Homo sapiens: one gene and its partners. The protein of the gene in region 5 interacts with the protein of the main gene of each other region in a pairwise test. Each region holds a gene or a part of one and is shown on either strand. Other genes may lie near its edges.

Region 1 (3,500 bases), on a different chromosome or scaffold from region 5:
TCAAGAATGACAGCTTCCTGAGACTACAGTTGATTAAAGTACTTTTTTTTTTTAGACAGGGTCTCACTCTGTCACCCAGGCTGGAGTGCAGTGGCGCAATGTCATCTCACTGCAACCTCTGCCTCCTGGGTTCAAGTGATACTCCTGCCTCAGCCTCCTGAGTAACTGGGATTACAGGCGCATGCCACCACGCCCAGCTAATTTTTGTATTTTTAGTAGAGACGGGGTTTCATCATGTTGGTCAGGCTGGTCTCGAACTCCTGATCTCAGGTGGTCCAACTGCCTCGGCCTCCCAAAGTGCTGGGATTACAGGCGTGAGCCACCGCACCCAGCCTTTAAAAAGTACTTTTTAAAATAGTTTTTTATTATTACTAAATTCCAGATGTTGCATTGCTAAACATCCGCTGTGGGCAGTGGGGAGCCCCCAAAGGCTGCTTCCTGGGGTCAGGGTCAGGGGTGAGCAAGGGACAACTTGGGCTGCCTGTGCCTATTGGTACACATGCCTCAGCAAGTGGTCCTGACACTGGCTTATTTTTATTAGGTGAAAAGTGAAAGGGACCAACATTACACAATTCCACAATACTAAGAAACACGTGACCACAGCCAGTGTCTCCAGGGGGTGGATACACATTGGCTGTGTCCTTCTGAGCGGCTTCCCTCAGCCTGCAGTACTTGGGGCTCATTCGGGTACAGGGCCCCCGCTTGTCCAGCTTACCACACGAATGCTGAAGCACCATCAGGGAGTGCTGCCAGGGAGTTGAGGGCAAATTTGCTTAAAACCAGTTCACCGCTAACAAGAAACTTGTGTGTCTGGTTCCCCAGGAAAGCCTAACCTTTGTGTTTCCATTTCCATGGCATCTGCTCCCCACAATTTAAATAAGGAACAGATAAGACAGGTCATCAGATATTTACATACCCATGAGAGGCATATGAGGTGGGCAGGAAGCCAGGGGCATCACAGCCCAGCATCTGGCCCCGTCGGGAGGATGACCTGGCACTGGGTGTTGGAGACCAACAGGGGGCATATCATGTGGGGGCTGTCAGCAGCAGCAGTCTGCTGGGGGGTGGGGACAAGGAGGGGTCTGCTTGGCTGGGGGATTAAGTATACTTGGGGGTGAAGGAGGTGGGAGATTGATTACACAAGCAAAAGTACTGAGGACAACAGGAGCAGGCTCTCACTGTTGGAGGAAGGAGTCACAAACCTGGGAAGAGAGAAAAATAGTGGGAACCCTGTGGTGAACTAGAATTAAAGATATTGGAGTGGGCCAGGTACAGTGGCTCATGCATGTAATCCCAGCACTTTGGGAGGCCAAGGTGGGAGTATTGCTTGAGCCCAGGAGGTTGAGGCTGCAATGAGCTGTGACTTCACCACTGCATTCCAGCCTGGTGACAGAGTGAGACCCTGTCTCAAAAATAAAAATAAGCTGGGTGCGGTGGATCACATCTCTAATCCCAGCACTTTGGGAGGCTGAGGCGGGCAGGTCACTTGAGGTCAGGAGTTTGAGACGAGTCTGGCCAACATGATGAAACCCTGTCTCTACTAAAAATACAAAATTAGCCAGGCGTGGTGGTGCACACCATAATCCCAGCTACTCAGAGGCTGAGGCAGGAGAAATGCTTGAACCTGGGAGGCTGAGATTGCACCACTGCACTCCAGGCTGGGCAACAGAGTGAGAATAAATAAATAAATAAATAAATAAACAAACAAAAATAAAGATATCATAATGAACTCATGGTTTTTAATATATAAAAACATAGGAAAACAGATGTGAATGTGTGCGCACGTGTGTGTGTGTACACACGCATCTGTAATAACCCACAAATATTCCTTAGCTCTGTGTCCTAAGAGTGTCCAAGAGCAGCAACACCCCAACAGCAATGAGCACATCAAAGGCCAAGATTTACTCTGAAAGGAATCAGGGCTCCTTAGAGAATTGGGTGAAGCAGGCAGAGGCAGAACAGAATATGAGCCTGGTTGGGCACAGTGGCTCACACACATAATCCCAGCATTTTGGGAGGCCAGGAGTTTGAGACCAGCCTGGGCAACATGACAAAACCCTCTCTCTACAAAAAATACAAAAATTAGCTGGGCAACGTGGCTCGTGCCTGTAGTCCCAGCTACTTGGGAGGATGGGGTGTGAGGATCACCCACCCAGGAGGCTGAAGTGAGCCAAGATTATGTCACTGCCCTCCAGCCTGGGTGACAGAGTGAGACCCTGTCTCCAAAAAAAAAAAAAAAAGGCCAGGTGTGATGGCTCACGCCTGTAATCCCAGCACTTTGGGAGGCAGACAGGCAGGCGGATCACCTGAGGTCAGGAGTTCAAGACCAGCCTGGCCAACATGGTGAAACCCCATCTTTAATAAAAAATACAAAAAATTAGCTGGGTGTGGTGGCAGGCGCCTGTAATCCCGGCTACTCAGAGGCTGAGGCAGGAGAATTGCTTGAACCTGGAAGGCGGAGATTGCAGTGAGCCAAGATCGTGCCATTGCACTCCAGCCTGGGCAATAAGAGTGAAACTCCATCTCCAAAAAATAAAAATAAAAATAAATTTACACTGGGGAGGGTTAGGGACATCATGTCCTCATAGCATTTAGGCGAAACTTAAATGTAGATTTAAACTTGAATTTCTCCTTTAGTCACCAGATCTCTTCTGAAGGCTGGGCACCATGCCCACAGCCTTACATATATGAATTCACACAGCCCTCAACAGTCCTCAGTAACCATGAGCTAAGTATTATTATTGCCCCACAAATCAGAGGAGGACCAGGAACAGAGAAAGGTTCAGCCAAGGACCAGGGTCATGCAGCCAGAGGTGGAGGCAGAATTCAGACCCTCTTGCTGTTCTCAACTACTATATATGTCAAGTACACATCAATCTTGCACCAAAACAGTGTTCAGAAAGAAGCACACTTTTGTACAACATATACACACACTTTCCACAAGCCTCAGCAAATATGAAGTGCTATGCTCCAAAGTGACACACAAAATTCAAATAATTGACCTCAAGAGACCAACTCACTCTAAGAAATCAAGTGACACGTTGTGCAGATGACCCTTGGTTTAAATATCTTCATCTTATTTGGTGGCCCCACTTATAAGCTACTTTCAAATTGTTATTAACCTTGACCAAGTGATCAAGGTCAATGGTAGCAGTGACAGGACATATTGACAGCATGTTTTCCCTGACACAATGTGCTGAGGACACACACATTGCCTCTGTGGGACTCTGGCCACAGATGCACAACTTCAGTCCAATCTAGAGGAAACATCAGACAAACCGCACTGAGGGATGTTCTACAAAATGACTGAGCGCTTCTTAAAATGGTCAGCGTCATTCATGGATGACAAGGTCACAGATCACAGGAGACCAAAGAGACATGATGACTAAATACAACGTGGGATTCAGGGCAGAAAAGGGCATTAGGGCAAAAACTGGGGAACTCCAAATGAGGTCTGTAGTTCAGTTAAAGATCATTGTACTCAGCGTAATTTCCTGGTT
Region 2 (3,500 bases), on a different chromosome or scaffold from region 5:
CTCAGTGTCTCGGATCAGAGATCGCACATCAATTTGCCGCCCTGACCTCCCACTGGTGGCTGGGGAAACAGTCCTGGGCTCCCTGGCTCTCTCCCTAACTCTAGACTTGACAAGGCAGAAGCACGAGGGAGAGGCTCATGGCCAGGACACCCCCTGTGGCCCCGGCCCCAGCCCCTCCCTCCCTGGTACCTCTCAGCAGGTGAGTGGCACTGCGCGTGCACAGGATGGTGATGAATTTCATCTCATCAGTCCCACGAATCTTCTCGCCTGCCGCATACAGATCCTAGCATTGGGACACCCACAATAAGCCAGTGAGGGAGACCAGGGAGGTGAGGGACTGAGCCCCAGAGTCCCAGAGCTGTGGCCATGGCCTGGCCCTGTCCACTCTGCCAGGCCAGCATGCTCCCCTGCTTGGTCGTCTCTGACAGGGAGCTCCCCTTTCTCTAGCAGCTCTGGCTTAGAATATTTTCTCTATCCTGGGCCACAAGCTGCTCTAGGAACTGCCTGGTCCCCAGACTTCCCTCTGCCAGCAGGCAGACCTACAGAGACCCGGACACCTGTGTCCAGCACTGGGGCCTAGCGCCCCCGGGTTCATGGGCTGTTCCTGCCAGGACAGAGCTTTAGTGCTCCCCCACCCCCAAGTCACACTCCTTCCTCCCGAGTCTCCCAACACCCTCACTCTCCTCCCCAGACACCACAGGACAAAGGCCTATAGGGAGCTGAGCTGGGTGGGTCCCAGCCCAGTGTCAGAGAAAGCCCCCGTGGGCAGAGGAGCCGGAGTCCAGATGGCAGGGGGTGGGGCCACATGGCCGGCTGGGCGCAGCCTCACCTGTGCGTCTTGGAGGGCCAGTCCTGGGTCCACAAAGCTGCTCACATCATCCCTGCTGCCCTAGGAACAGAGGAGGTGGCTCTGTAAGGCAGGCCAGCTGACCAGAGCATTAAGGGCACAGGGGGGATCCTGGGCTTGGAGGGCAGGCATGGCTCTGCTGCTCTTTGGCTGTGGAAACTTCGACAAGCCAGTTATTCTCTTCAGCCCTTGGTTTCCTCATTTGTACAATGGGGGTGGTAAGGACTGCCTCATAAGGCTTGGCGGATTCAGTGAGCTAAGGTAAGCAAAGTGCCTGGCATGAGGCCTGCACGAAGGACCTGCTCTCCTCCCGCTTCCAGGATGCTCTCACATGGCTGAGTAAGGACAGGTGTGGGGGCTCTGCAGTTGGGACCCTCTAACCATGCTGAGACACACCCAATGAGCCCTGGCTGCTGGGCTATCCCATGCCCCTACCCTGACTCTTGTGGCGCTATTCAAGGGCTGCTCCCTGGGGTGGAGCTGTTGGGACTCCCAAACCAAGGCACTCCCAAGAGCCTAGGCTGTGACACCTGCAGGAGGCACACCAGGATCCTCTCCAGGTAGCCACTTGTGTCTGCTTGGATGTCCTCCTCCAGGCTGGACCCATAGTCTGCAGGGAAACAGGACCATGAGGCACAAGCAGAGGCCCACAGCCTACCCGGGGCCTGCTTTCCTCCTTCCAGCCCTGTTCCCCATACTTCTCCTTATTAAAGCCTTCTAGGAAAGAAAGTCCTTGGCACAGGGCATGGATGCAATGCCCGGGTGTCCAAGTGGCTGTCGCCTGGGTGGTGCTTCACAACTAGAAGCGACATGCGTACCCAACCAAGCTCAAAGCACAAGATGGACCAGGTCAGAGAGCCAGGCTAGGGGCTGCCAACCAAGCTCCATTTCATCTCAAGGCTTGGCAAAGCCAAAGCCTCCAGGAAAACTCCCCACTAGGTACATGATGTGGAGGACTGACTGGCCTCTGCTAGCCTGGGGTCCACACCCCCTACTACCACAGTCCTCAAGGGCAGAGATTTTAGTTGGTCACAGGCCTCTCTCCCCTGTAAGAGGAGCTGGTGAGCTTACAGATCAAGTCTGAATCATGTTCAGTGTCACCATCAGGCACAGATCTTGGCATACGGTAGGTGCTCAGCACCTGTGGGTAAAAAAGTCCCCAAAGGGTCCTTTCTAGTGTGGCCCAGGTTAATTCTTGATCCTTGTTCCCTGCCAGGCTGCCAAAGCTTGTGGCCACTCCTGAGCCCCTCCATCTGTGCCACCCCTTACCTTCCTCATACGCCTTCATTATCTCCCGCAGCTGGTTCTTGGTCCGAGAGGCCAGGATCTCAATGATGACACCCTCCTTGGTTCCTAAGCCCTGTGGACAGAAACCTCTGCCTGCTGGAGTGCTCTGCCATGACCTTCTGCTCTGTCCACACCTTCTTTTCTCAAGATGCCTGAGCCTCAGGAAGGACCTCACTGCCCTGCCCCACTTGAAGTGGGAGGATGTGATGAGAAAATCACATGCTTCAGTGATGAACATTGAGGGCAAGTGCTGTGACGGGGAAGCCCTGTCTCAGCTCTCCCTCCTTAGCTGGGTGGTCTCAGACAGGCTGCTCCATGTCCTGGAGCCTAAGCATCCCGATCCATAAACAGGAATAAGAAGCCTCCCCTGCGCCAAAGATAGATTAGGGAGCGTGGGTGTAAAATGCCTGGCAGTGCCCATGCAGCAAGTGTCTTTCCAAACAAAATGACTATAGTTACTGGGTCCCCATCCTTATTAATCTGCAAAAGCAAAGAGTAGTGAGAGGTAAAGGGAAACCCAAGGGGCTGTGCCTGGGACTGTAGAGGTGGGTTTCCAATACCACTGTACACCTGAGCTCGTGAGGTTCTGAGAAGTACTGATTTTGGCTTCATCACGGCCACTCAACGTGTCAATCAGGCACCAGTGACTCCAGGTGTTGGGTGCAGTCTGAGCAGCAGGCTGCCTGCTCACTGGGCCCAGTTATGGCCCATATGGCCATTCCAAACAGTGGCTCAAGGGGAGCTCTGGGCTGTAGGTTCCCGGTCCCCGCATTGCCCCTACCCAGTCATGTGAGCACCCCTGCCACTCCCCTGCCCTGTCTGCCTGGTTACCTTCATGGCGTCATGCAGCTCCTTGGCTTCGTATCTGTATGGCGGGTACATAAGGGCCACAATGAGCCTCTCAAACTTGCCACTGAGCTCAGACTTCAAGGTCTCAGTGAGGTCCTAATGCGGGAACAGGGAAAGGTGATATTTGTCATAAGCCAGGCCCACCTGAGTGCAGGCAGCGGAGTGGTGGCTGGGTCCAGGGGCTTGGGCTGGATTCTGCGTGGGCCTTGCCACGTGCTGGCTGGGTTTCTTGGGCCAGCTCCTTAGCTTCTCTTAGCATCAGTATCTTTACCGGTTACACGGAGAGAAACGTGCTCCTGCTTCATCCCGTTGCTTAGGGGGTTGTGTGTGACTCAATTCAGCATTCAGTGCAGTGCTGGGCACATCATAAGCTCTCAGTAAAATGAAATTGGTATTGCTAGCTAGACTGCAAGCTCTGAGTATGGCATCACCATAAAATACCTGTCACTTGGCACTCAATGAATGAATGCATGCCTGAATTAAAGACTTCGTCTCACATGTGCCTCCTTCTAAGGTC
Region 3 (3,500 bases), on a different chromosome or scaffold from region 5:
GCCAGAGGATATAAAGTTCTAAATTTATAGGCACTCAACACTGCAGCACCCAGATATATAAGCAAATATTATTAGATCTAAAAAGAGAGATAGGGCTGGGCATGGTGGCTCATGCCTGTAATCCCAACACTTTGGGAGGCCAAGGCGGGAGGATCACTTGAGGTCAGGAGTTCGAGACCAGCCTTCCCAACATGACGAAACCCTGTCTCTACTAAAAATACAAAAATTAGCTGGGTGTGGCCAGGCGCGGTGGCTCATGCCTGTAATCCCAGCACTTTGGGAGGCTGAGGCAGGCAGATCACGAGGTCAGGAGATTGAGACCATCCTGGCTAACATGGTGAAACCTCGTCTCTACTAAAAATACAAAAAATTAGCCAGGCATGGTGGCAGGCACCTGTAGTCCCACCTACTCGGGAGGCTGAGGCAGGAGAATGGTGTGAACCTGGGAGACGGAGCCTGAAGTGAGCCGGGTTCGCACCACTGCACTCCAGCTTGGGTGACAGAGCAAGACTGTCAAAAAAAAAAAAAGAAAGAAAAAAAAATTAGCTGGGCGTGGTGGCATGCACCTGTAATCCGAGCTACTCAGGAGGCTGAGGCAGGAGAATTGCTTGAACCTGGGAGGCAGAGGTTGCAGTGAGCCAATATTGTGCCACTGCACTCCAGCCTGGGCGACGGAACTAGACTCTGTCTCAAAAAAACAACAACAAAAAAAGGTAGACTCCCATAAAATAATAGTACGGGATTTGAACATCCCACTCTCAGCATTAGACAGTTCATCTAGATAGAAAATCAACAGCTTTGGATTTAAACTGGATATTAGACCAAATGGACCTACCAGACACTAACTGAACATTTTATCCAACAGCTGCAGAATACACATTGTTCCTATCAGCACATGGAACATCCTCCAGGAAGAGACCATACGTTAGGCCATAAGACAAGTTATAACTAATTTTTAAAAATTGAAATCATATCAAGTATCTTCTCAGACTACACTAGAATAAAACTAGAAATCAATAACAAAAACTTTGTAAACCACACAAATAAATGGAAATTTAAACAATGTGCTTGCTCATGAATGCCCATTGGGTCAATTAAGAAATTAAAGATCATCAAAGACTACTACAGGCAACTATATGCTAACAAATCAGATAACCTAGAGGAAACAGAAAAATTCCTGGATACATGAAAACCTACCAAGACTGAACCAGGAAGAAACAGAGCAGAAGAACCTGAGCAGACCAATAACGAGTAATGAGATTGAAGCAATAGTAAAATGTCTCCCAACAAAAAAAGCCCAAGACTAAAGGGCTTTACTGCTGAATCCTACCAAAATTACAAATAACTAACCTCAGTTTTTCTCAAACTATTCCAAAAAATGGAAGAGAAGTTAATTCTTCCTAATCCATTCTACAAGGCCAGCATTACCCTGATACCAAAACCAGAGAAGGACACAACAACAACAACAAAAAGAGGTGATATCCCTCATGAACATAGACACAAAACCCCTCAATGAAATACTAGCAAATGAAATCCAATAATACAACAACAAGATAATATACAACGATTAAGTGAGATTTTTCCTGAAAAGTGCAAGGATGGCTCAACATAAGCAAATCAATAAACATGATGTATCAGATCAACAGGATGAGGGATAAAAACCATATGATCAGCTCAATAGATGCAGAGAAACATCTGATAAACTTCAACGTCTCTTCATTATAAAAACCTCTCAACGATTAGGCATTAAAAAACATAACATAATAAAGACCATATATGACAAACGTACAGCTAACACCATACTGAATGGGGAAAAGCCGAAAGCTTTTCCTCTAAGAACTGGAACAAGATAAAGAAGCCCACATTCACCACTATTATTCAATATAGTACTGGAAGTCCTATCCAGAGCAATCAGGCAAGAGAAAGAAATAAAAGGCATCCAGATTGGATAATAGAAAGTCACACTGTCCCTTTACAGATGACATGATCTTACATATATTTAAAAACCTAAAGATGCCACCAGAAATTCTTGGAACTGATCAATGAAATCAGTAAAGTTGCAAGATACAAAATCAATATACAAAAATAAGTAGTACGCTGGGCACGGTGGCTCACGCCTATAATCCCAGCAGTTTGGAAGGCCGAGGTGGGTGGATCACTTGAGGTCACGAGTTTGAGACCAGCCTGGCCAACATGGTGAAACCTTGTCTTGACTAAAAATACAAAAATTGGCCAGGTGTGGTGGCAGGCACCTGTGGTCCCACCTACGTGGGAGGCTGAGGCAGAACTGCTTGAACCCAGGAGGTGGAAGCTGCAGAGAGCTGAGATCATGCCATTGCACTCCTCCAGCCTGGGAGACAGAGCAAAACTCTGTCTCAAAAAGGGAAAAAAAAAGGATTTCTATACATCCACAATAATGAATTAGCTGAAAAAGAAATCAAGAAAACAATCCCATTTATTAATATAATAGCTACAAAAAACAACCTAGAAATAAATTTAACCATGAAGTGAAAGACCTCTGTAAGGAAAACTACAAAACACAGACAAAAGAAATTGAAGACAACAAACAAATAAAAAGATATTTGCATGCTTATGCACTGGAAGAACTATTGTTAAAATGAACATACTTCCCAAAGCAATCTACAGATTCAATGCAATCTACAGATTCAATGCAATCCCGACTGAAATGCCAGTCAGTTTTTACATGAACAGGAAAAAAAATCCTAAAATTTGTAGGAAACCATAAAAAATGCCAAATAGCCAATGCAATCTGTAGCGAAAGAACAAAAGTGGAAGAATCAAACTTCAAAATATACTACAAAGCTGTCGTAACCAAAACAGCATGGTACTGTCATAAAAATAGACCCAAAGACCAATGGAACAGAAGAGAGAACCCACAAATAAATCCATGTATTTATAGTCAACTGATGGTTGACAAAGGTGCCAAGAACAGACATAGGGAAAAGGACACGCTGTTCAATAAATGGTGCTGGGAAAACTGGTTATCCATATAGTGAAGAATGAAACTAGACTGTATCTCTCACCATATACAAAAATAAACTCAAAATGAATTAAATACTTAACTATAAGACCCCAAATTATAAAACTACTGCAGGAAAACATAGGGGAAACACTTCAGAAGAATAGGCAAATATATTTTAGATAAGACCTCAAAGATATTTTCAATAAGGGGCAACAACAAAAAAATAGACAAATTGGACTATATTGAACTAAAATGCTTCTGCACAGCAAAGGAAACAATCAGCAGAGTGAAGAGACCTGTAGAATGGGAGAAAATATTTGCAAACTCTTCACCTGAGAAGGGACTAATATCCAGAATTAACAAGGAAGCAAAAAAACTTAATAGCAGTGCCATAGCGGCTCATAACTGTAATCCCAGCACATTGGGAGGCCAAGTCAGGAGGATCACTTGAGGCCAGGAGTTCAAGACCAGCCTGGGGAACATAGGGAGACCCCCCCCGATCTCTATAAACAGTTTT
Region 4 (3,419 bases), on a different chromosome or scaffold from region 5:
GAGCCAGTACCAAGAACTAGCAGTAGCCCTGGATTCAAGCTCCGCAATAATCAGTCAACTCACTGAAAACATCAATTCACTGGTAAGAGTCCAGTGGGGTCCCCTGATTACAGCTGGTCAATCCTGGACTCCAGTTTCCTCTTGGGGCCCTGAAGAAAGGGGCTAGGGGCCCCTGATGCCAAGGGCAAATGGGGAGCTGGGCACCCAGGTCTCACCTGGAGGGACCCCAGAGCACAGAACATGCAGCATGGCTCTTCTGCACTGCCCTCTTTGCTGACTCTCTCTTCTCCAGACACCCCTGCTCTAGTCCTTGCCACACATGCCCTGGGGTTGTCACCTCTCTGGGAAGCACTAGCCTGACTGGTTGTCAGAGGTCCATATTCCTGCCCTGCCTCAGTCCCTAATTTGCTTTTTGAGTCTGGACAAGCCATCTCTCCTCTTTATGCTCGTGTTTCTGGAGGAGGTAGAGAGTATCAAAGGTCTCGGTTAGCTCTGAAAGTCAGAGATTTAAAGGCCCCTAGAATGGAAAGCTCAGGGCGAAGGGCTCCTGTCTGTCCTTTGCTGTTTTATATCTCTGCTATGAAGAACTGTACCTGGCCTGTACATGCTCAGTAAATGTTTGTTGAATGAATGCACGTTTCTAAATCACAAACTGGCAGAAGGGGGGTGGGCCTTTCTCAAACTCTGTCTCTGGACGTTCACCAGCCCCTCCCTCCAGTACCCTTTTCCCCCTTTGCTTTGGGCAGGTTCGCACATCTAAGGAGGAGAAGAAGCATGAGATACATCTGGTACAGAAGCTTGGGAGGAGCTTGTTCAAACTCAAAAACCAGACGGGTAAGATGGGGCTGGCATGACCTGGCAGCTGGACTGGCATTAGAGGGCTGTGGGGGTGACTTAGAATGCCCCAGGGAGGTGGGTGGATGGAAGGGCTTTGAGGCAGAGGGAAAGAGGTCTGTGCCAGGGGAGGACAAGTCTTGTCATCTCCATGAGCCTCAGTGTCCCCATCAGTAAAGAGGGAGGAGTGCCCATTGTCAGCCACCCACAGTGCTCTCTATCTGAAAGTGACTTGGAAGATTGTCTACCATCCGGGTGTGAGGAGTCATTAGCAGTGAGGCCAAGTTTGGGAAGCCTGAGAGGAGGAGCTGTGCACCAAAGGGAGGATTTTTTTTTTTTTTTTTTGAGAATCCAGAGGCCCTTATTCTCTGCTTGCTTTCTCAGCTGAACCCCTGGCCCCACAGCCCCCAGCAGGGCCATCTAAGATGGAGCAGCTACAAGATGAGACCAACCACCTAAGGAAGGAGCTAGAGAGTGTGGGAAGACAGCTCCAGGCTGAGGTGGAAAACAATCAGATGTTGAGTCTCCTGAACAGGAGACAGGAGGAGAGGCTACGTGAACAGGAGGAGAGGCTACGTGAACAGGAGGAGAGGCTGTGTGAACAGGAGGAGAGGCTGTGTGAACAGGAGGAGAGGCTACGTGAACAGGAGGAGAGGCTGTGTGAACAGGAGAAGCTGCCAGGGCAGGAGAGGCTGCTGGAAGAGGTGGAGAAGCTGTTAGAACAGGAGAGGCGGCAGGAGGAGCAGGAGAGGCTGCTGGAGAGGGAGAGGCTGCTGGACGAGGTGGAGGAGCTCCTGGAGCAGGAGAGGCTTCGGCAACAGGATGAGAGGCTGTGGCAGCAGGAGACTCTGCGGGAGCTGGAGAGGCTGCGGGAGCTGGAGAGGATGCTGGAGCTGGGGTGGGAAGCCCTGTACGAGCAGCGGGCCGAGCCACGCAGCGGCTTCGAGGAGCTGGTGCGTTGCCCCACCTGGGGAGGCTGCCCTCTTCCCTAGCCCTCAAGGCCTTTGTTTCCCCACCTGTAAAATGGGGCATTGTAGCCTTCACATGAAATGGTACTTCTAAAGGCATCTGTGAGCCAGAGCCCTGCTCTGATGGCTGTGGGAGAGAGGGGATATTTTTCTAACCTGCCTCCACCCTTCCCGGTGCCATGGGAGGCAGACACTAAGTTCTGGGGTCTCCAGTTTTAGTGGGTGGCCACTGATTGCTTCTTTCTGTCCAGAACAACGAGAACAAGAGCACACTGCAGTTGGAGCAGCAAGTAAAGGAGCTGGAGAAGTCGGGTGAGCTGAAAGAGACTGTAACCTCCGACCCATCCAAGAAGATGTGGGAGGCGGGCACCAGCCTCTGGGGAGGGGAGGTGCCAGGCCACAGGCAGCTGCAGCCTGGGGACAGGTGACCCCAGCACCCTCCGGGGCAGTCCTATGACTGTTTCTTGCTTCCTGCCCTCTGACTTTTAGAGGTGGGTAGCCCTGGGGTCCTCCCAGGTCTGGACATCATCATCCCAGCTAGAGGCATGGAGCCCCCCAATCACAGAGGAAGAGACAGTGGTATAAGAGGCTCCTTATGTCGGGTGTGGTGGCTCATGCCTGCAATCCCAGCACTTTGGGAGGCTGAGGCAGGACAATCACTTGAGGTCAGGAGTTTGAGACCAACATGGCCAACATGGTGAAAGCTCATCTCTACTAAAATTAAAAATAATAATAATAATTAGCCAGGCCTGGTGGTGCATGCCTGTAATCCCAGCTACTCAGGAGGCTGAGACACGAGAATCACTTGAGCCCGGGAGATGAAGGTTGCAGTGAGCTGAGATTGCACCACTGCACTGCAGCCTGGGACACAGAGTGACACTCTCTCAAAACAAAACAAAACAGAAAAACAAAAAAGCCTCCTTAGATTCAAACTGGATTCCGGCCTCGGTTCCACTGGTCATAATTCAACTACTTTGCATCTCTAAGTCTCTGTTTCTTTAACTTCAAAAGGAAGTTAGCCTTTTCCTTGCAGAGGTGCTGAGGATTAAATGAGGTAATACGTGGAAACATTAGGCATGTAGCACACTTAGCAGATGGTGGTTGGCTCCGCCTGCTTTTCCACCAGTCTGTGGCCTACAGTTTACATGCTGGGAAAAAGGACGTGAGATTTGATGCTAGGGAAGGAGGCATGGGGTTCTAAGCAAGGGAGACAGTCTCTTAGGCCTGGAGCAAGGGGCCAGGGGCCTGGGCAGGCCACAGAGCCCCACAGTGCCCTCGCTACCCTATTAATGGGCCAGGAATCTGGAAGCCAGCCACCACATGTCCTCATGCCCAGGGTCTTCCGGCAGGTGGAGCTGAAGAGCCAAGAGGCTCCGAGTCTGCAGCAGCAGCCAGACCAGTAGCTGGAGCCCCAGTCCCACAAGGAGCTTGGATGTGCGGACAAGCAGGGTGGTGAGTAGAGCCCTCAGGCGGGGTGGGCAGGCAGGAGCAGGGGAGGCTCGCACTGTGCCCAGATTCCCACCCCCTCCCTCTCTCTGAAGATCTTAGTGAGCTGAGCCTCACTGATAGCATGGAGGCTGCACCGGGAGAGGACAGGGAGGGTTCTCCCCCATGACA
Region 5 (3,500 bases):
TCTTCTACACCTGCCCTTGTTTGGTAATGGAATGGATTCTTCGCTTACAAGATATATTACACATTTAACCACAAATATCTATGAATGAGCCTACCGTATATTTTAAAATAAGTGTTGGTTATATTTTATGTTAGAAGAATCAGTATCAAAAAGAAATACTGTCATATATTATAGAAAGTAAGTTTTATTGGATATGTTTTTCAGATCTCAAGATTTAACATGGTGTTTGATACTAGTAAGTCAATAAAAGCAAAAACAAAATTAACTTCCTTTGGTTTGATATAGCAGAAAAGTACAAGCAAAAATTAGGAATTCCAAGCACAAGAAAGCATACAAGTCTTGTGAATTGTATCTTCCTTTTTCAGTTGATTAATCTCCACTGTCTTGCTGGTTAAAGTGGAAGTGAGGCTGGTGGGAAGGCTGAAAATATAATGGGATACTTTTACATTATTTAAAAATGGGCCAGGTGCCATAGCTCACGCCTGTAAACTCAGAACGCTGGGAGGTCGAGGCAGGTGGAACACTTGAGGCCAGGAGTTTAAAACTAGCCTGGACAACGTGGTGAAACCCTGTCTCTACTAAAAATACAAAAATTAGGTGGGTGTGGTGGTGCATGCCTGTAATCCCAGGTACTCAGTAGGCTGAAGTACAAGAATCGCTTGAACCCCGGAGGCAGAGGCTGCAGTGAGCGGAGATCGTGCCACTGCACTCCAGCCTGGGGGACAGAGGGAGACTCTCACTCCAAAAAAAAAAAAAAAAAAAAAAAAAAACGCTACAGAGGTTAGGAGAGCTAAGAAGCTGAAATTATCTTCAATCTCATGTATGTCTGTCTCACTCGTACACATTATCAGTTTGATCTTAACACTGTGGAAGAACTGGAAGGCTCTCATTTAACTGAAGGGTTAAGCAAACATTTTCTGTAAAGGGTGACATAGTAAGTATTTTAGGTTTTGTGGGTCAAGAGGCAAAATTCAGGATATTAAGTAGGTACTTACATGTCTACTAATGAGGAAAATAAAATTCTCTTTTGGGGATCACATTTCACTTAATTGGAGTTCAAAGTTAATGTTCTCTATCAAAATCAATGACAAATGTTCATGTGTCAATGATGTTGTGTTAACAAGATTTTATGTATTTCACTTTCTTTTCGCATAGACAAGTAATGCCAAATACCGATATTAATCCACAAGTGTATGATTTTAATTGAGCATATTTATTGCTTGGAAGGCATTCATAGAATTGTATTACATTCTTCTCCTGATAATGGCCTTTTAACATACTGTTACACTGCAGATTAGTCACTACCAACTGAAGGTTAGATGGAACCCCCTTAACTGTACAGTGAAAACAAATTTTGAAATATGAAAATTTCCTTTGCATTTGCATTCAAGTCTGAAAAACACTGCTGAAAATATAGCTTGAGCCTGGAAAATATATCTGCTGCAAATCTATGTGGTAATGAACATCCTATTTTAACTTCTGACACCACTGGAAGTATATAAAGTATATAAAAGCAATTTGACATTACTTATGATTCAAATGTTAACTTGTGAAATTGACTTTACTGCACTTTATGTTTCACAGAAAAGCAGTATTTTGCCTTGTAACTCTATGATGAATTCATTAAGACATATTAGCAAGTTTGCAGCAAAAGCTAATTTTCAAAACCATCCAGTGTTCAACAGCAGTAGCCGAAGGCAGTACTGATTCAGAAAAATCTTACTCTTGGCCCCGAGTTCAGAAAAATCACAACAAAACTTTGCTACTGCTAAGTCACCAGATTAGTGTGTCATTAAGACAAGTCACCCTAACAGTATTTTGTTAGAAATATTCAGCTTCTATTTCTAACAAAATGTCACAAAACTGGCTGAGCATGATAGCTCACACCTATAATCCCAGCACTTTGGGAGATCAAGGCAAAAAGATCACTTGAGGCCAGGGTTCAAGACTAGTCTGGGCAACGCTGTGAGACCCTATCTGTACCAAAAAAAAAAAATTAGCCAGGGTCCTGCTTGAGCCCAGGAGTTGAGGCTGAAGTGAGTCATGATCGCACCACTGCACTCCAGCCTGAGAAACAGAGTGAGACTCTGTCTCAAAAAAAAAGTCACAGAACTGATATTGATAGTTACGTGCACAAGAGTGAATGAAGTTCATTGTTCACAATTACTGGTTAAATAACACAAGGTAGATTAAAGTCTTCTCTAACAAAGTACTGCTGATGAATAATGTAATAGGCTTTTTAAACACCTTACGTTTTCAATCTTGGCAAATCTGTTCCACTAAGTCTTCTGCTCCACATATTTTTACCCTTATCAGTTATAATAAATCTTAGCAGATTCCACCTCAGGTTATACTGAATTAACACTTTTGCAACTGCTTTGAAGCTATTTTCTCCTATAGCTGTTCCATGTAGACTACTCACTGGAGCTAGTTCTTCTGTCAAGCTCAGCACTGACTTTTTTTTTTTTTTTTTTTTTTGAGACAGAGTCTCACTCTGTCACTTAGGCTGGAGTGCAGTGGTGCAATCTCGGCTCACTGCAAACTCCGCCTCCCAGGTTCAAACAATTCTCTGCCTCAGCCTCCCGAGTAAGCTGGGATTACAGATGCCCACCACCACGCCCGGCTAATTTTTGTATTTTTAGTAGAGATGGAGTTTCACCATCTTGGCCAGGCTGGTTTTGAACTCCTGAACTCATGATCCATCCGCCTCAGCCTCCGAAAGTGCTGGGATTACAGGCGTAAGCCGCTGCACCTCGCCCAACACTGACTTCTTGAATAAACAACTGCAAAGCAGCAATAACATTGATCTAGTCATCAAGAGCCAAGGAAAAATATACCTGAGCTAATTTGCCTTAACTTTTAATTGACTACTGATGTTGCTCCACTGTCCTCAACTCTTCAAGCAACTGTTCTTGGTGAGATGCTAACAGTCTTAAATAAATTTATTTTCTCTGCATACATTTCTTCAGCTGTTGCAATCAAATATGAATTAACCTATCATTGGTAAATGGCTTTCCTTGCTTGGCCAAGAAATAAGCCACTTAGAAACTTTAGTTGCAGCCTCAGTTTCATTCTTTTATTTTTGTGAAAAAATTCTGTTGTGTTAAGATATTCTATTTTACATTATTTTCTGACCATTGTTTTCCTGAGTTAGAAATATTCTGATGAGTGCTCAGTATGGTAATGTCCACGCTTACTGTATTCTTTTAACACAGCTACAGTATCATTGTGTAATAAACACAATGTTTTGCCATCTAATTCAGTGACAAAATAATCCATACTCCACCATGCCTTAAAAGCATGACATTCAAAGTTAACTTTTCTTGTTTTGGTGTGATGGATATGTAATGGTAATAAAAACAAATAAATAAAATAGTGCAGTATGGCAACATATGTGGCGATCAACATGTTGCTGTTATAACTGCATCACTGCAATTAGTATGCTGAGCAGCAGAAAAAAAGTGATGAGAGCTGCACATGTGGTTTCTGTTGAAGCTACT
Region 6 (3,500 bases), on a different chromosome or scaffold from region 5:
CACAAAACTGCCCAGGAGAGGAGGAGGGCTTAGTGAGCCACCTGCAGGGCCATGCCCCAGCTCACATCCTAGGCCAAACCTGGGAGAAGAAAAGGAGCAGCAGGTCAGGGCAGCAGTTGCTGGGCTGTGTGTGGGAGGAAGGAGCCTTAGGTGGATGGAGTGGTGGGAAGCAGGAAGAGAAGGGGTAACACTTTCATCATGGGGAGGGGAGGAGAGGGGAGGGAAACAGACTGGGGTCAGGACTAGAAGCCACCTTCCTCTTCACAGCTACCCAGAGGCCTGGGGCACCCTCTGGCCTTGGAACAGACATTTAGCTGTACCAAAGGGACCTCCGCCTCAACAGAGACCCTGCCCAGGACCGGGGGCCCCTCCAGTACTCCACCTCTCATCCCCAGACCCCCGCAGGGTCTGTCTGACATACTCCCCGGGAAGCCTATAGTCTGGAACAACAGCCAGGTCACAACTGGGTGCTTCTCATCCCCCGACAGCACCCACCTCATGTGGCAGGTGTTCAGCTTAAATAGGCTGAGAACATGATCATAGGCAAGCACATGCCCACAGTGGGGCTGGGAGGCGGGGTCATGGGCATCTGGAACCCTGGAGTGGTAGATGTCACCGAGAGAGGGGAGAGTGGAGGGGAGAGGGGCTCAGGGCTGTTACCTGTATCCTGTCTTCCGGCAGCTCCGTTTTCATGGCCAGCATCTCCCGGGCATAGACGTCTGGGTAGTGGGCTTCGTTGAATGCCTTCTCCAGCTCCTCTAGCTGGTAGGAGGTAAAGATTGTCCTGAGGGGAGCAAGACCGAACACTCAGGACCCCAGAAACTAAAAGAGCCTGTCTCAGACAAGACAGAACCGCCTTCCTCTGTGTCTCCTGGGCAGGCCCCGAACCCAGGCTGGCTCAGCACAATAGGACACAAATTCTCTCTCTCTCTCTCTCTCTGTCTCTCTCTCTCTCTCTCTCTCTCTCACACACACACACACACACACACACACACACACACACTTTCTCTCTCTCTTTCACACACACACACACACACACACACACACACACACACACACACACACACTTTCTCTCTCTCTCTGTCTCATAGTTTAACCCTCCGGACTCTTCTTCCTCAAGGCTGAGGGCTCACACTACCCTTCCTGTGTTTGGGGGGTGGCCATTATTTCAGCCCTCAGTGACATTTCACACTGGGAATCTTTCTGGAGGTGCTCTGGGGGAAAGGCTGTCCCAGAAGAAGGACATTCTAGAAAAGCAGAAAGCCCCTCTTCCTCCCAAGCACAGAGAAGAGGGGCTTACCAGATTACTAAATAGCCCAGCTCCACCCAGACCAGCTTCCTGGGCCCCTCTCACAGTCACTAGAGCTGAATTTTTGAATGCCTTTCAAAGTTAGAAGATTCACCGGAAGGTCAAATGCAGCCTCAACCTCAGTGTTTATACAGCAGAGAACTGAATCTCCCACTCCCTCAACTCCCCCCAGCACCCCTTCCTCCTCCCCTGCCCTTCCTCGACATCACCCAGACCTACCAGCCTCCCAGCACTGCCCCGAGCCTTTTCCAGTCCTATTCTGTGCTGACAAGGGAAGGGCCACCTTCCAACCATCCCATACTTGCAAGCTCAGCCACTCACCTGCAGGGGGTTCCATTCGGGCCACCCTGAGAGCCCACAGGCACAGTTCCCCACCCCCAACAGAGCAGTTCATATGGATCTATTTTGTGTTATAAACTGCTTTAAGAATCTGGTAAAAACTACATTCTCTCACCTTAGGAAAATGGGCAAATAAATAGGCCCCAATTTGTAAAATTTTGCCTCCAACATTAGGGGATTCATAGGTCCTCTTTCTTGAATAAACCGCTAAACACCTACTTCCAGACACAAACTCTTCTCTTTTCAAACCTTAATTTCACCAGGTTTTGGGTGGTCTTTATCCTGAAACCTCATTAACAAGCCAACAGGCAATATAGTCCAGCGTCCACAAACTGAACTGGTAGAAATGGTCCAGCCCTTGCCTGGTCCCCTGGGATCAGACTCTGGCGCCAGCACAGGGGTGTAGAATCCCTTATTGCTGGGCCCTCACCCTCGTCTAACACAACCCAAAAGTACAGATTTGAACCTCACACAATCCTTGTGCTGGTGTCCACTTTAATATCTCGGGGGATAATTCAGGGAAGAAAGATTGTGCTCTTTGCAGAAAATGACTGGTTTGATTCTAAATCGTTTCTCCTATTCTCTGGGGGTGGGGGGTGATGATGTGAAATGCTTATGCACACACGAAGTTAATTCTTGAGAATTTTGAAGATCTGCTGCTTTTTCGCTTCTGCCATCTGCTGAAGGGCCCATGGACAGAGCATCAAAATAAACAATAAAGAAATTCAAGTCCTTTCCAAAACCAGGGAAACTGAGGCACAAAGGCAGTCAAAGAGGAGAGCCGATTATAGGTCATGTAGAACCATTCAAGTCTCAGTCCCTACTTCGGAGAGCCCCTCTTCAAAAAACAAAACAAAAACTCAAATCTCCCAAACTTTCCCTAATTCATGCCTCAGAGCTGACACACTTCCCCCATAATGTGACCCAGCCTGTGTTCCTGGTTTATGCAGAACCCCAGACCCTTCAGGCTCCTGTTGTGTCCAGTCTGAAGAGGAGCTGAGCTTTCCCAGTAGAGAGAAAGAGCAAAATCAGAGAGACTCTCACCGTGGCTGCTTTGTCCCCACGCCACCCCCCAAACGCTTTTAAGTCTGGTTTGTTTCTGGGAGATAAAAATAAGCCCATCTCTCATCACCAGATTCCAGGGTCTCTTACCCCAAATCCCCAAATGACAGAAGCTCGAGTAAAATGTATTTTTTCCTAATTAAAACAAGCACTTGAAATCCGTAGCCATTCTCCTCTCTCCAATAACCTTCTCCCTTCATGCAACAGAAATAGAAACCCCAGGCAGTTAATACCCGAGTGTTGGTGAGTTGCTGTTCTGCCCCCATGAAAACCCACCAAAACCCCCAAAGGTGTTCCTGGCGAAGAGAGTGACAGATGAAAACAGACGGTCACTAAGTGCCATGCAGTGAGATGTCCTGATGCGGAAATGCCATTCCTGTACCCAGGGTTTGGGGATGCTTTTTCCAGGGCTCTCCATGCTGTGGGAACCCCTCCCACCCCTCCTGGCACCAGCACAAGGGCAGTTTTGCCGGTCTCTGACCTGCCCTCCCTGCAAGGTCCCTGTCCCTGCCTGGGGAAGATGACAAGATTACCCACCCTGGGACCCGCGTAAGATGGGTGCATAAAAAGTGTTTTAATGAATATTCGTTGAATGAATTGAATGTAAAAAAAAAAAAAAAAGACCAAAGATCAAGACCAAAAAAATTTTTCTTTTTCCTTTTAAAATAAAACAATACAAACTAAACAAATGCAAACAGCTGCCGGAAAAAGAATAGACCGAGATCCGGAGAAACCAAGTCGAAGTTCACCTGCATTCAAGCCAAAACCTATTAGGGCCTAAGGGGTGAGG
Region 7 (3,500 bases), on a different chromosome or scaffold from region 5:
CCCAGAAAGAACCATCGCAGGTGAGCCCGGGGCCCCCAGCTCCGTGCTCCTGCACCCCAGGGCATGCGTGCCGCTTCTGGGACGGCCTCAAGGATGCCCCATCCAAGGACTGTGTGAGGTTGTCCCCAGCGCTCCCAGGAAGCCCGGCCTCCAAACTCCCCGCCTGCCCCACAGATTCCCCAAGCTTCCTGGGGCTCAGTGCTGGGCGAGGGCAGTCAGTGCAGCTGTGTGTTTGCTGTGTGCCTCTGGGCCTCACCCCAGCCCCTCCTGTCCTTTCCCAGCCTCGCAGTTAAGACCCATCCTCCTGTGTCACCCGCACCAGATGCTGCGTGTGTTGAGAAAGTCCTGCTGCCCCGATCATCTTCCCTCAGTGAACCCAGGATTCTGGGCGGGCCCAGAAGGAAATGCTGAGGGCTCCCCTGCAGCTAGACCTGCTGTTGCGCAGGCCTCAAGGCGACGGGAGGGGCCCGGCTCGGTTGGGAGCCAAGCGGATCTCTGTGTGGCTGGAGAGATTAAAATCAGGGGTGGGGACACGCAGACACATGAGAGAAATCCAGGGGTAATGGGTAAATCACAAAAGAACAAAAGTAAGAACTGCTAAGTGAGTAGCATGTGTTCGTATGATCAGGGCTACTGAGTTTGACCACTTTCTGCCTCTGGATCTTGGTATTGGAGCCGCCAAGGGAAACACAGCACGGTCGAACAATGAATGGAGCAAGGTTTTGCTCACAGACCAGAGACCGGGCCAGAGCACCATCTGCCCATGTGGCTGTCAGGCCGGGGCCAGCAGGTCCCTCCTAGAGGGGTCCTGACCTAACAGTGGGGCTGTCTAGGTGCCACGTGAAGCACACGCCTGAGCAGAACAAAGGGGCACACATTGGGAAACAGAGACCTCCACACGAGGCACTACACCCAGCACAAACTGGGGGGACCCCTTATCTCTTGGTAAGGAGATGTTCTAGGCCCAGGACCCACTCTCAGGCAGCCAAGTAACAGGCTGAAAGACTGCACATGTGTGTCTCCCACTGGCTTAGTCCGTTCTGGGTGCTGTAACAAAATACGGCTGGGTGTGGTGGCTCATCCCGGTAATCCCAGCACTTTGAGTGAGGCCTCACGGGAGGCTGAGGTGGGAGGACCACTTGGTCCCAGGAGTTCAAGAGCAGCCTGGGCAACATGGCAAGACCCCATGTCTTAAAAAAAAATGAGCCAGGTGTAGGGGTGTGCACCTGTAGTCTTAGCAACTCTGGAGGCTGAGGTAGGAGGATCACTTGAGCCCAGGAGTTCAAGGCTGTAGTAAGCTATGATCATGTTTCTACACTCCAGCCTGGATGACAGAGTGAGACCCTAACTCAAAAAACATCAACAGCCGGGCACAGTGGCTCACGCATGTAATCCCAGCACTTTGGGAGGCTGAGGCAGGCGGATCACAAGTTCAGGAGTTCAAGGAAGAAGGAAGTAACTTGTGGAATGCTGAGAAAGGTAAAAACACCTTCAAATAAGGAAGAGGAACAGGCTATGACCTAATGCTTGCTTGGACCAGTATAGGCACACCAGGGCAAATATTTAGGCTAAATTGTGGGAGCTAAGAACATAAAGTACATTGATTTTTTTTATTATGGCTAGCAGATATATAAGAATGTTAGCACAGGTCTTTGAATAAATTTTGCTTCTAAGAGAAGTTACTATTTATTCCTAATTAGATGGGGAGGAAAGTCTTTGAAGAGGAACTTCTACTTTACTTTTTTTTTTTTTTAATGGAGTCTTGCTCTGTAGCCCAGGCTGGAGTGCAGTGGCGCGATCTCGGCTCACTGCAAGCTCTGCCTCCCGGGTTCACGCCATTCTCCTGCCTCAGCCTCCGGAGTAGCTGGGACTACAGGCGCCCGCCACCTCCCCGGCTAATTTTTTTTGTATTTTTAGTAGAGACGGGGTTTCACCGTGTTCACCAGGATGGTCTCGATCTCCTGACCTCGTGATCCACCCGCCTCGGCCTCCTGAAGTGCGTGAGCCATCGCGCCCGGCCCTAAAATAGATTTAAAGATCATCATGAGAGCCCCTCTCCTGCACCAAAACAAAGTTTCGTGGGCCGTGGTTTCTGTTTCTGCATCTAACGGAGGCATCTAACCTGGGTAGACCACAGTTGTTGGCCACGGGCTTCCTCAGCCGCTGCCGGCAGATGTGCTTATCTGACTCCCTCTCCCATCCCAGACGCCACGTGGAAACCACAGCCGCGCTCACAGGCCATCCCCTCACCACACGGCAACTCCAAGGACTCTCTTTTTGCGGGGGTCGTAGGTGGGGAAGGCTGCTGAGGTCCTCCCACCCCTCTCCCACCAGGGCCGCTGTGGCTGAGAGGATCCTCGTTGGCGCTGGTTTAGGCTGTGGGGCTCAGCCACAGCAGGGTGCCCCAACGTCCCTGAGCGAGCTGCACTTGTGGAGGGAGAGGCCTTAGGCCTGAGGCCTGGCGCCCGCGTGGAGAGACGGCAGCTCCGGGATCGGGGCGCTGGTGAGCGCGGCCCCAGGCATTGCCGCTGCCAGGGTGCTAACACTGCCTGAGGCACCTCTGCTTTTGAAGTCGCCGGGGATTAGCGGGAGCGTAGGTGAGGGACAGGTGGAGCTGCTCTGCGCGGGGCAGCCCGGCTCGCCAGGAGGCGCTGTGGAGTGGGCACGACTGGCGATCGCTGAGCGCATACAACCGCCTACCATCGGAAGCCTTTTGAGAAATGCTTCCTTAGGCGGTTTCGTCACCGTGCATACATCGCAGAGGGCACTCACACACCTACACGCACAGCCCATGGCTCCTAGGCTACAGACCTGCACAGCACGGGGCTGCACTGAATACTGTGGGCAACGGTAACACAATGTTGTTTGTGGATTTAAACATAGAAAAGGTACAGTAAAAATACAAAATAGAAGATAAAAAACAGTACACTTGTATAAAGCACTTGCCAGGAAGGGAGCTTGTGAGACTGGAAGTTGCTCTGGGTGAGTCTGAGTGGTGAGTGAATGTGAAGGCCTGGGAGGTTATTGTGCTGTGGACTTCATAAACATGGTGCACTTAGGCTACTAAATTGGCAACTATATTTCCTTCTTCAATATAATTTATCTTACTGTAAGTTTTTGCTTTACATTTTTTTTTTCTTTCTTAGACTGACTCTCACTCTGTCACCCAGGCTGGAGTGCAGTGGCACGATCATGGCTCACCGCAACCTCAACCTTCTGGGCTCATGCGATCTTCCTACCTGAGTCTTCTGAGTAGCTGGGAACACAGGCACACATTACCGCACCGGCTAATTTTTATATGTTTTAAAATTTTTTTAGTTTTTGTGTAGATGGGGTTTCACTATGTTGCCCAGGCTGGTCTCAAACTCCTAGGCTCAAGCGATCCTCCCTCCTCAGCCACCCAAAGTGCTGGAATTACAGGCGTGAGCCACTGTGCCTGGCGTAAAAAACTTTCTGACTCTTGGGGCCGGGCGCGGTGGCTCACGCCTGTAATCCCAGCA

The links.
Region 1: the proteins of GTF2B (region 5) and PBX4 interact in binary tests that used the Homo sapiens proteins (3 or more experiments, as listed by UniProt).
Region 2: the proteins of GTF2B (region 5) and ANXA8 interact in binary tests that used the Homo sapiens proteins (3 or more experiments, as listed by UniProt).
Region 3: the proteins of GTF2B (region 5) and ZNF829 interact in binary tests that used the Homo sapiens proteins (3 or more experiments, as listed by UniProt).
Region 4: the proteins of GTF2B (region 5) and GOLGA6L9 interact in binary tests that used the Homo sapiens proteins (3 or more experiments, as listed by UniProt).
Region 6: the proteins of GTF2B (region 5) and VSX2 interact in binary tests that used the Homo sapiens proteins (3 or more experiments, as listed by UniProt).
Region 7: the proteins of GTF2B (region 5) and ZSCAN1 interact in binary tests that used the Homo sapiens proteins (3 or more experiments, as listed by UniProt).

Annotation. Positions count from the first base shown.
Region 1 is NC_000019.10:19,594,688-19,598,187, forward strand, and holds part of PBX4 (pre-B-cell leukemia transcription factor 4), read right to left. Parts: intron 1-3,500.
Region 2 is NC_000010.11:47,474,116-47,477,615, forward strand, and holds part of ANXA8 (annexin A8), read right to left. Parts: exon of another isoform or gene 3,128-3,500; intron 3,080-3,127; coding exon 2,966-3,079; exon of another isoform or gene 2,965-2,965; intron 2,208-2,964; coding exon 2,117-2,207; intron 1,989-2,116; coding exon of another isoform or gene 1,951-1,988; exon of another isoform or gene 1,476-1,950; intron 1,458-1,475; coding exon 1,378-1,457; intron 890-1,377; coding exon 830-889; intron 284-829; coding exon 190-283; intron 1-189. UniProt on the Homo sapiens protein: This protein is an anticoagulant protein that acts as an indirect inhibitor of the thromboplastin-specific complex, which is involved in the blood coagulation cascade.
Region 3 is NC_000019.10:36,895,792-36,899,291, forward strand, and holds part of ZNF829 (zinc finger protein 829), read right to left. Parts: intron 1-3,500. UniProt on the Homo sapiens protein: May be involved in transcriptional regulation.
Region 4 is NC_000015.10:82,432,816-82,436,234, forward strand, and holds part of GOLGA6L9 (golgin subfamily A member 6-like protein 9), read left to right. Parts: exon of another isoform or gene 1-1; coding exon 2-82; intron 83-746; coding exon 747-834; intron 835-1,218; coding exon 1,219-1,787; intron 1,788-2,053; coding exon 2,054-2,114; intron 2,115-3,151; coding exon 3,152-3,254; intron 3,255-3,419.
Region 5 is NC_000001.11:88,881,568-88,885,067, forward strand, and holds part of GTF2B (transcription initiation factor IIB), read right to left. Parts: intron 1-3,500. UniProt on the Homo sapiens protein: General transcription factor that plays a role in transcription initiation by RNA polymerase II (Pol II). Involved in the pre-initiation complex (PIC) formation and Pol II recruitment at promoter DNA.
Region 6 is NC_000014.9:74,242,449-74,245,948, reverse strand, and holds part of VSX2 (visual system homeobox 2), read right to left. Parts: intron 785-3,500; coding exon 661-784; intron 1-660.
Region 7 is NC_000019.10:58,040,525-58,044,024, forward strand, and holds part of ZSCAN1 (zinc finger and SCAN domain-containing protein 1), read left to right. Parts: coding exon 1-20; intron 21-3,500. UniProt on the Homo sapiens protein: May be involved in transcriptional regulation.